Regions from separate parts of the Homo sapiens genome. Here region 2 is linked to region 1. Evidence: fine-mapped QTL for protein levels in blood plasma. A gene starts in region 1. The other region holds a variant in brackets. All regions are shown on one strand. Distances are between the middles of the regions.

Region 1 (5,354 bases):
TTTCAGTATCTGTGGTCACTCCACTCAGCCCAGCTTTAGAAGGGGACTTCTCGAGGGAAGGAAACTGAAGGGCTGTGGAGCAAGGGGATGCTGAGCCTGCTGCTCTTCTGCTCTCACCCCCGCCTCTCAACACTCAGCCTCCAGGGTTGCAGACATTGGGTTGGGCCTCTCTGGTCATCTCCCATGCACACACATACACACCCACCACGAGCAGGAACCCCAGCCACTTCTGAAAAGGAGAAAGGTGGACTCCTTAGCCTGCCCGGCTGGAGAAAGCCTGCCTGCAATGACCAGGGGCCCACACTGCTCTTCTCCAGCCCCCGACCACAGATGGTGCCCACACCTGGGAGCCCTGCCCATGCTGGGGTATGCAGCTCAGCAGTAGGCAATCTGGCTGTTTTGCCTGAAATACAATTTTTTTTTCACCTTGGCCCTGATCATGCTTGGACCCAGAAGGCTGGGTTTTCAAGCTAGCAGTGGGAGAAAAAGGTCAGATTTTATAGTAGCCCCTTCAGAATGAGAGTCCACTTGCCAGGGTTGACAGGAAGGGCTTCGGGATCACAGCGGGCCCAGAGCAACTTCCAGCTTCCTAGAGGAGCCCCTCCCACCCCAGAGAGAAGCTGCCTCTGGCTGAGGGAGGTAGGACCTCTGAGGCCACACCCTAGAGCAGGGACTTGCCCCCTTGGGGACTCGCACCTGGCGGGAAGCAGAGGGGACAGGCAGAGAGTCCAGAGCCTGTGTGGACACCCAATGACTCCGGTCCCCTATCCTAGTCTGGCGAGCACTTCTTAGACCACGCACATCCTCCTGTAACCAGCTCCTACCTCCCCACTCGTGGCCTTCCCAGATCCCCTACTGCAGGAGGGAGAGGGTGAGATCATGACCCCGCTGGGCAGCCTGGCTCAACACTGGCTACACAGCAAGCCAAGGTGGTAGAACTACACCCTCACTGAAGCAGACGTGTGCTCCTTACAAACACACTCACACACACACACACATACACAGTAGTTACCCGGCTCCCTCTATGGGAGCGTCTACTCCCTGGCAGCAGCCCTGCCTGGGACTCCCGGTGGTGCACAGCCTTGCAAACAACCGCCTTTCCTCACCTCCCTCCGGAGATTGCCATTTCCCAAGCAGCTGCGATTTCACCTAGCTTTAAAGGGAGAGAGGAGCTGGGAATTCTGTGTGGAAAAGAAACTGCGTGGGGCTCAGTGGCGCCAGGCAGCCTCTCCTCCCTGTCTTGGAGGCGGCGGGGGGGGCAGTGGGGGGGGTTTGCAGAAGGAGCAGTGGTCTTTGTTCAGACCCGTTTTTCCTCCCTCGCCTCCCACCCTCTTCAACGGAGAAAGCAAACTTTGGCCTCCCTCCCGCCTCTTCCCACCAGCCACGGGGGTCCGCGGCCCCCAGAGGTGGAGGAGGGAAGGCCGGGAACGGCTGCTCACAACCCTCCGCTCCCGCCCACCCATCTGGCTCGGGGCTCGGTGGGGAGAAACTTGAAAAGTGTTCCGGGGAGTGGAGCCGCCGGTTAGGGGCTCAGGGCGTGGGGACGCGGGCTCCGTTTGCCAGGCGCGGCTGGCAGGTGGGGAGTGACTGCCAGCGCTCCCCGCGCGATGTCCAAGCGGGAGCCGCCGGAGAAACCCGCGCCCTCCACCACGACCGACTCGGGGAGCAGACCAGGAAAGGCGGACCCCGCAGGACTGTTCTCTCCCCGCCTAGGAGCCTCTCTCTCCCTCCCTTCTTGCAGATCAAGAGTTGGATATTTTTTTTTCTTAAGTTGCCGCAATTCGAACCCATTATTTCGGGGGAGATGCGCGCTATACTGGCGTGTGAGCGAGCGCGGGTGTGTGTGTGCGTGCACAGTGTCTGCGGGGCTGGTTCGGATGTTGAGTCTCCCTCCCGATCCCCCTGCGTCGCCAGCCAGCCGCGGCTCCGGTCCCTCGTCCGCGTCCCTGCCGCCCGGCCCCGCTCGGTTCGCCAGCACCGGGCCCGGCTAGCTCCGCGGCGCGCTCTCCCCGCCGACCTCCCGCCAGCCCCCCACCGGCGCTCCGCTCGCCCCCCGCCTCCCCGGCTTCTCGCCTCCCCCTCGAGCTCGCCGCCCGCAGGTACTCACCTAGAAAGAAGAAGAGGCAGAAGACGTTTGCCAAGATCATGTTAAATAAATCCCACCGTTTTTTTGTCTTTCTCCCTTGGGTAAAAAAAAATAATAGTAGTAACAACAACAATAATAATAGGCAAGCAGTGGTAATCAGCCCCAAATCCAATGCGGAGATCCCAGCTAGTCCACCCGATGAAGATCCCGAGTCCTGCGATTCTCGCCTCTGGCTGGAGGGGGTGGGGTGAGAGGCGGGCGATGGGCTGCTGCCTCTCGACGCCCCCCTTGCCCGCTACAATCAAATATACGCGTATCTGTGTATCGGCTTTCTAAGCCAACAGCCCAGTCCTGGGGTCAGCCCTCCCCTCCAATCGTCCGGGAAGGCGTGAGTCCCCGCGGGTCCAATTCCCCTGCGCTTCCCAGGAGGGGCCTGGGGAGGTGGGGAGAGAGGCGATTTGCGAGTGAAGGGCTGGAAGGAAGCGGCGAGGGAGGGGGTCGGAATAAAATGCAAATAGAAAAGAAATCCACAGACGGGTGTCAGCGCCCAAGAACAATCCAGTCGGAGCTTCGAGGACGAGAGACTGGAGTCGCTTCTTTCGCACCAAGACGAAGACAAGATTCAAAAAAATCTTCTCCCGCTAACCCTTGCTCGGCTCACTTTTTTCTAATGGAATTCCAGTGACCGTGTGTCTCTGCGTGCGTGTGTCTTTCTCTCTCCTCTCTCTCTCTCTCCTCTCCCTCGCTCGCTCTTTGCTCTCGCTCTCTCCAGCTCTCCCTCGCTCTCCTCTCTCCCTCCCCCTTCTCCCACTCTCCCTGCTCCTCCCTCCGCCCGCCCCCTTCTCCCTTCGCGGCTCCCTCGCCCGGGCTCTCGCGCCAGCGCCCCTCTCCTCCGCCCCGGGCTCGGCGCTCGGGCTCCCAGGCGGCTGGCGGCGCGGGGCGCGGGGCGCGGGAGCGCGGCGGAGCTACGATGCTCTGCAGCGGCGGCGGCGACAAGGCGAAGGCGGTGGCGGTGGCGGTGGCGGCGGCGGCGGCGCCGGGGATCGCGGGCCGAGAGGAGAGCCCAGCCGCCGGCTCCCTCGGCTCAATCGCCCGCCCTTCCTGGGACTGACCTGCTGCCTTGGCCGGAAACTGACTGGCTCCCCCGGCTACGGCTCGGGCTCGAACCCACTCAAGCGTCGGCACCCTCCTCCTCCTCCCCCCGCAGCTCTCCCCACCCTGGGGACCGGCTGCGCCCTCCAACCCCCACTGCCCCTGCCCCCGCCCCCTGCGCCGCTGGGTCTGGGAAGCCTGGGGAGCTGAGCTGAGGCTGGAGGGCGCGGAGTCCGTGGGGCCCGAGCCATCCGGGGGCTCGGGGGGCAGGGCGTTAGAAAAACCCCAGCCGGTGGCCCGGGTCTGAGGGGGGCTCCACCCTCCGTGGGCTAAGGCGTCCCTGCGCCCAGGAGCCGAGGCCGACAAAGCGTCTCCCCGATGGTGCCAGGGAAAGGAATTATCCCCTTCGGCGCCGGCCCCGCGCGCCCCCGAACCCAACGCATCCTGCCGGCCCCGGCCTAGCCCCGCGCGCACATACACGTGTGCTCTCCGCGCGGACCTCGGGAACTTTGCCCTCACGCCCGCGGCGCGCTTGCCTCCCGCCCGCCCCGGCCTCCACCCCTTCGAGATGCCCCTTCCCCAGCCGGTCTCCCCTCCCCCCGGCTCGGGAAGAAGCCTGCTGGGCCAGGGCGCCCTGACCACCTCCTCGGAGGCCGGCAAACCTGCCTGAACCGCCCCAGAGGAATCGGGCAGGGGCTCGCACCCCACCCCGGCAGGAGGGCCCCGAGACCGACCCGGGCCGGGGCTCCGCAGCCGGCTGGGCTCCGAGGAGCTCGTCCCGAGGCAGCTCCCGGCTCCCTAGGCTCCGGGGTTGGGGGGTTCCTCCTCCCCTAGCCGGGAAGGGGGCGATTGATCCATCTGTCGGTGGGCCGGGCTCACCGGCGTGTTTTAGTCGCAGAATTTACAATAAACGCCCAGAAGGACCTAAAAGGAAGCGTCTGGCTGGGAAAGGGCTGGAGGAGAGGTGCGGCTGCGGTCACGTTCCGGCGAGAGCGGGAGAGGCGCGGGGTCGCGGTCGCGCGAGGGCTCACACCCACGCAGCCCGGCATCCCCCGGCCCTCGCGCCACGTTCCTCGCACTCAGCTCGGCGCGCACACACGGTGTCCTGGGGTGGGGTACACGCAGCGCCTCAGAAACTTTTCGTGCTGCCCAAAACAATCTGGGCTGCACGTAACATGAATTTGATAGTACCGTTTAAGATGCATTCTTAAATAACAAGACTCTGGAATCCAGTAAATGCTAGAAATCGACTTGGACGAGAAGGGAGGGGTCACTAACAAAACCAGCAGCCTTAGCTATTGGGAAAGCTAGAGGGAGCAACTTCCATCTTGAGGATTTAGGCGGGAAGGCGGCTGCTCCCGGCCTTGGAAGCACAGAGAGCGAGTCTCCTGTGAACGCCTCTTTCCTGTGGTCCGTCCTGGGGCATCGACCTTCCTCCCTCCATCTTCTCCCCCAGCCATCCAGTTGTGCCTGCTTCGAGCCTAGGCCCTAGCTGGGTAGTGACGAGTCTGGGACAGAGGGCTTAGGGATTGGAGTTGGGGAAAGCCCCCTTCAGGCCTGCCCTCCCTGTCATTCCTCCAAGCCTCTCATGTTCTAGGAAGTGACTTCGCATCTGACAAGGTCTCTTGGCTTTTTTTCCAAAAATTGGGGAGCATAAGGAACCGGCTTTGGATAAGTGTAGGTTAAAAGATAAAACTTGACAGGAATTACACTGCCAGGCAGGCTTGGCCTGGAGGCCCGAGGCTGGGAGCCTGGCCTAAATGAATGTCCCCCCTCTCATCTCCTCGACTTCCAGGGTCTTCTGGTTGTCCAAATACTCCCCACCACCACCCATTTCGGAATCTCACGCAGGCCTTCCCCCTTCCAAGGACCCTGCTCCAAACTCCAGAATTTCTGCTCAGCATATCCCTCTCCCCTTCCCCACAAAAAAGAATTTCACTTTCTTTTAACTTCATTTGAGCATAATGAGAGAAATTCTCTGAATCATATATGTAGTTCTCCCCTCCCACCTATCCAGAAAATGGGGCTGAGAAAGCAGCAATGAAGCCCTGGGGATGGTTCTCACTGAGCTCCCACGGGAGTAGGAAAGAGGATTCCGGTAGCAGGAGGTAAGTGGCCCTTCTGCGACCCAAGACCACCCAGCCATCCCAAGAACAGTAGAGAACACCAATCAGTC
Region 2 (5,362 bases), 100 kb before region 1:
TAGGATGAGAGCAGCGACCTCATCTTACATTGTGAGCCTCCTGTGTGTTGGTGGGCAGGGAAGGAGAGGGGCGGGGTCAGTCCACTGTGCTGGGCTGGAAAAAATCAAAGAGTTTTTCCTGGAAGACTCTCTTCTGGCTGTAAGAGCTTCAACACACGCAGTCACGCTCACCACGGTGGTTGTGCAAACCTCCCACAGAGATGTTTGATGAGATTAGTCACTTTCTGCCAGGGTGGTTGGTCCATGCGTAGGAGACTTCATGACCTCTGATGCTGGGCAGTGTCTAGGTCAAGGTGGTGACTCAAGTGTGCCCTCCTCCAGGGAGGGAGGCCAGGCGGGGGCTGAGTCATTGCTTCACATGGCCCCAGAGGTTGGCTTCCCAAGAAATGCTGTCTTGAAGGAGTGGGAACAGGCCAGCGTGTAAGGTGCCACGCACAGAGCAAGCTCTAAGGTGGCAGTCCACAGCTCTGGACTAGAGGCTCAGAGAAAAATTGAAGCAACCAAGCATGTGGCGGTGTTTGCTGAAAGGGAGATGAATTCTGCCTCCTTTCAAGTCATTTTTCCCCAGGCCGGTGAGTTCAGGAATGGCTGCCAGTCACAGAATCACAGAATCCCATTGCCGAGGGAAGGTTGGGGAGCAGCCCCTCTGACCTCTCCCTCTGAAGATGAGGGCAGGAGAGTCCAGGGAGGGTAAGTGACTTGCCCACAGCCATGCAGCGCTCTCAGGGGCTTCTCTGTGCACTCAGGACCCTTGTCCCCTCCCCAGCCACTGGGGTGGCAGCTCCATTTGCTCTTGGCCACAAGTTCTCCGCAAGCACACAGAGAAACCTTGGTGCAAATTAGAGAATGATGCCCCCTCCTCGGGGCTGAGGCCCAGGTTGGGTGCACAGATGGGTGAGTTGAGGGTGGCTGGCTTTCAGCCCCATTCGCCCTGCTTACCAGATGCCCCTGATCAGAGTACAATCTCACAGTGGCAAGCAAAGTCCCCACATTCCAGCCCACACCTATGTGTGCCTGGTCCACAGGCTACCTGCCTTCTCTCCTTGCACCTCTGGACCGCATGCAGGACGGTTCCTCCCAGCTTTCTCCTCCACCAACTCCCATGTGAGTTCACCTCCCTTTGCACAATGGGCCAGTGTGCCCTCTCTCTTCCTCCAACTTAAGGATGATTTCAGCCCTGTCACCCATCAGTCACTCCCCGCTGCAAACCCTCAGAGTTCCAACTGCCTGGGGTGGACAGCTTGGTCTCAGAGGTCATCTAGAGCAGGGGTTGGCAAACTACAGCCCATGAGCCAAATCTGGCCTGTGCCTGTTTCTGTAAATAAAGTTTTGTTGGAACACAGCCATGCCTAGTCATTGACATTGCCTATGACTGCTTTGGAACTACAGCAGAACAGTTGCTAGTTGCAATGGAAATGGCATAGCACACAAGGCCTGTCATTTTCACCATCTGGCCCTTTACAGAGAAAGTGTGCCCATCCCTGACCTAGAGCAAACTTTCCAAGGCTCAGAGAAGTTCAGTGACCTAGCTGATGTCACCAGCTGCTGGATGGCAAAGCCAGCATTTGAACCTGGATCCCCTGATACTCCTTCTGGTATATTCCAGACTCCTTGAGAAAAGAAATGACTTTACTATGTCATCAGACTCTCACCCCGTTGCCAAACTTTTTGTTGTTGTTGTTGTTTTGAGACGGAGTCCCACTCTTTTGCCCAGGCTGGAGTGCAGTGGCGTGATCTCAGCTCACTGTAACCTCTGCCTCCTGGGTGCAAGTGATTCTTCTGCCTCAGCCTCCTGAGTAGCTGGGATTACAGGCACACACCACCACACCTGGCTAATATTGTATTTTTAGTAAAGACAGGATTTCGCCATGTTGGCCAGGCTGGTCTTGAACTCCTGACCTCAGGTGATCCACCCGCCTAGGCCTCCCAAAGTGCTGGGATTACAGGTGTGAACCACCACGCCCAGCCCCTGCCAGCCTTTTCTCTATACAGAAAAGCACACAAAGGAGAAGTGGCTCTACTTAGAAAACATCGAGGTGGCTCAGAACTCATACCCTCCTGGGGCTCTCCCTGGAGGAATCTCCTAGGAGCCCGAGGTAGCAAAGCCCACTCCGCTTTTGCATCAGGCCTGACAGGGCAACCCCATGCCTGCCCACCTCCCATCGGTGTTGACATTCCCTTCAGCTCAGCTCCACATCTGATCAATATTTATTCACCATTTTGAGCTGGTGCACTTGCTCCGGCAGCACATCCTCTGCCTGCATGCGTGGAGAGGAGGCAGCCAGTCAAAGGTACTCCAAAGAGCGTGACATTTGCATCTTCTGTAGCCACTGTCCCCAGTGGCTCACAGATCACATCAACTCTATTTACCAACACAAGGAAGTTTCTTTTTTCTCTCTCTCTGTCTTCTCTCTTCCTGCCCTCTCAATTCCACTTGGCAATGCTTGCAAGAACACATCCCAGGGGCCTGATCACAGTCATTTTTTCGTCTGCCATGGGGAATCCGTGAAAGCTTCTTAGTCCACAGAGAGGAGGAGGAAGGAAGAAGATCCAAGCATGGGTCCCAGTGCAGCTTCTCTCAATGCCTAAAGGAGCCCGGTGGCCAGCAGGTGCTGAGGAGTCCTGGAGGCTGGGGCAGGGTGGCCACTGGACCGAGGGAGTGGCTGAGCACCCCTGCATGCCAGGGCATATGGCAGGGTACTGCATTGAATCCTGACACCACTCCTTGGAGGCAGGGACCACTATCTCCATTTCACAGATGAGCAAACTGAAACTCAGACTGGACGTGGTCACCCCCTTGGTCAGTGGCTAATCTGGAACTCAAACCCAGGTCTGCCTAATTCCCAAATTTACAAACCTCTTAACCATGGCGCCCCCAAGGTAAGAGCTGTCCAGGCAGGTCCAAGCAAGCAAGATCCTAGCTGGTCGGTCTCTTTCCCGGAAAAGCCAGCTTCCAGTAAAGCCATTCCCAGCAAGGTCATTATCAATCCCAGCAAAATCAGGATGGCAAGCCCTGAAGTGGAATGCCACCCTCATCCCCCTACCCCACTGGAAAGGCTCTGAGCAGGGACCTGTGTCCTTGGGCACC[G/A]CCTTCCTCCCCACTCCCTCCTCCCTCGTTTCAAGTCCACACCATACTTGATTTAATGAAGTCACTTATAGAACTCCCCCCTCATTGCTCTGTGGGCTCCCTTGTGAAGCCCACAAAGGTATACTCAGCCCTTCATCTGTGGATTGTCTGTCACCGCCGACCTGCACAAGCATGAGGCTGCTGGAGACGGAGGAGAAGGAGCAATGATAAAGCCCAGTTAACTGGAGCACCCCGTGGTCAGCACAGGCAGAGCACACAGGTGGCATGTGTGACTCATTTCAGGGTGACAGCCTGGCATGACAGTTACAGCACAGGGCCCCGAGCCAGCCTGCTAAGTTTGTGTCTGAGCACTGCCACACCCCGTAGCATCTCGGGGCAGAGAGTAACCTCTCCACACTTCAGTGTGCTCGTCTGTAGAATGGGCTGCAGCACCAGCCTCACTGAATCCTAATGGGGATGAAATGAGGTAACAGTCATACAGTTTTGGAATGATGTCTGGCACATGGAGAGGGCTATGTAAGCATGAGTTAATTCTTAAATATATATATTTTTAAGTATCTACATTTGGTTTTGGTTTGGTTTGCAGTAGTGCTATTAAAATCCTCCTAAAATGTTTGATACCATTTTTCCGCTCTGGAAGGTACAGCACAAAAACTCCACTTCACACTAAAAGAGGAATGTGGCAAATATGTCTGGTTAATTGACACTCTGCATGGCCTTGATTGTGTAAACAACATCTTTGTGAGGTTTTCAGAGCCCTTTCTATTTACTCACTTGCTTGAATGTAGGAGGTAGAGTGATGAAGCCATACTGCTGAGTTTTTAGAACACACATCAGACCTTAAAGATTCAATGTGGTCACCTCGGCAGGCTGGGATCACCCCCATCGCTCATGACGTTGGAGGTACTCCTTGCAGGGGAGGGGATGTGCTGGGCCGGAAAAACCCAGCTGACTGCTTAGTCAGCCTCAGCAGCCTCTGTCCATCTCTGTCTCAGTCTGTCTCCTCTCTTCCAGAGCTCGTTTAGAGGTGAAAAGTACTTGAATCATCCAATACAATTTTGTAGGTGAGGCAACCAAGATTGAACAAGATTGCCTGAAAGTCACCGTAAATGACTAGAAGGCAGCCATTCCACCATGTAAACCCACCACAGAGAATGTCATCAACCTTATTTACCAGTTTGGCTTCTAAATGACTTTGGATTTTCCTAAAAAATTTAATCCATTTTTAAAAGATGAATGGGCCAGTCACGGTGGCTCATGCCTGTAATCCCAGCGCTTTGAGAGCAGAGGTGGGTGGATCACCTGAGGTCAGGAGTTCAAGACCAGCCTGGCCAACATGCCGAAACCCCATCTCTACTAAAAAAACAAAATTTACAAAAATTAGCTGGGTGTGGTGGCAGGTGCCTGTAATCCCAGCTACTTGGGAGGCTGAGGCAGGAGAATCGCTTGAACCTGGGAGGCAGAGGTTGCAGTGAGGCAAGATCGCACCACTGCACTCCAGCCAAAAAAAAAAAAAAAAAAAAAAAAAAAAAGATTATCTACCCCTACTAAGACTCTAAAAAAATGGGCAACAAACAGGCGATGAATCTGTTTACTTGTATTAACACAGTATGGGCCAGGAGCATGGGTGGGTCACACCTGTAATTTCAGACTTTGGGAGACTGAAGCAGGGGATCCCTTGAGGCCAGACAATTAGGATCAGCCTGGGCAACATAGTGGGATTCCATCTCTACCAAATAATAAAATGAATAGGGTGTGGTGGCACACACCTGTAGTTCCAACTACTTAGGAGTCTAGGGTGAGAGGATCACTTGAACCCAGGAGCCTGAGGTTGCAGTGAGCTATGATCACACCACCACACTCCAGCCTGGGCAAAAGAATGAGACCCTGTCTCAAAAAATAATAATAAAAATATTTAAATAAATACACAAATTTTTTAAAATATGCAGTAAGTGACCAGCCTCAGCATCCTTGGGAGGGGCAGCCCAATTTCAACTCACTTCACAGATCAGAAAATGCTGGTAAAGAATTTCTCCAGCTGGCAGGGAACACTGGGGCTTCAATCCTCATGAGTAAAGGAAAGTCTTCATCTTAGGCATTCGACAGTCTGTGGCTGGGAACTAGAGACAGGTGCATATGTATGGATGCACACGCACACACACACACACACACACACACACACACGCCCCTTCAGCATGAAGTGAAGCCATCGGTGCATGCACACAAACACATTCACACAAAGCCCCTTTGGCAGAAGTGAAGCCATGGGTGTGT

Direction of the effects. Positions count from the first base shown, and alleles are read on the strand shown. Strength reflects both the effect of a copy and how common the allele is.
For the plasma level of the protein whose gene starts at base 2,863 in region 1, allele A in region 2 goes with a lower level than allele G (weak association).

What was found. A credible set is the group of variants that fine-mapping cannot tell apart. PIP is the posterior inclusion probability: the model's chance that the variant is causal. The UK Biobank Pharma Proteomics Project read protein levels with antibody pairs (Olink). The fine-mapping took linkage between variants from a reference panel, not from the people measured, so its PIPs are less certain.
Region 2: its variant is the best candidate, but not a certain one, in a credible set for the plasma level of the GFRA2 protein (UK Biobank, PIP 0.90).

Annotation. Positions count from the first base shown.
Region 1 is chr8:21,786,013-21,791,366 of GRCh38, forward strand. It overlaps GFRA2 (GDNF family receptor alpha 2), which reads right to left and starts at 2,863. Exons shown (of 9, transcript NM_001495.5): 1 at 2,108-2,863. The coding sequence starts at 2,147.
Region 2 is chr8:21,683,866-21,689,227 of GRCh38, forward strand. No RefSeq gene overlaps it. Among named protein-coding and RNA genes, the nearest start is that of GFRA2, 100 kb to the right of the region's middle. The variant G/A (reference allele first, on the strand shown) is at 3,089.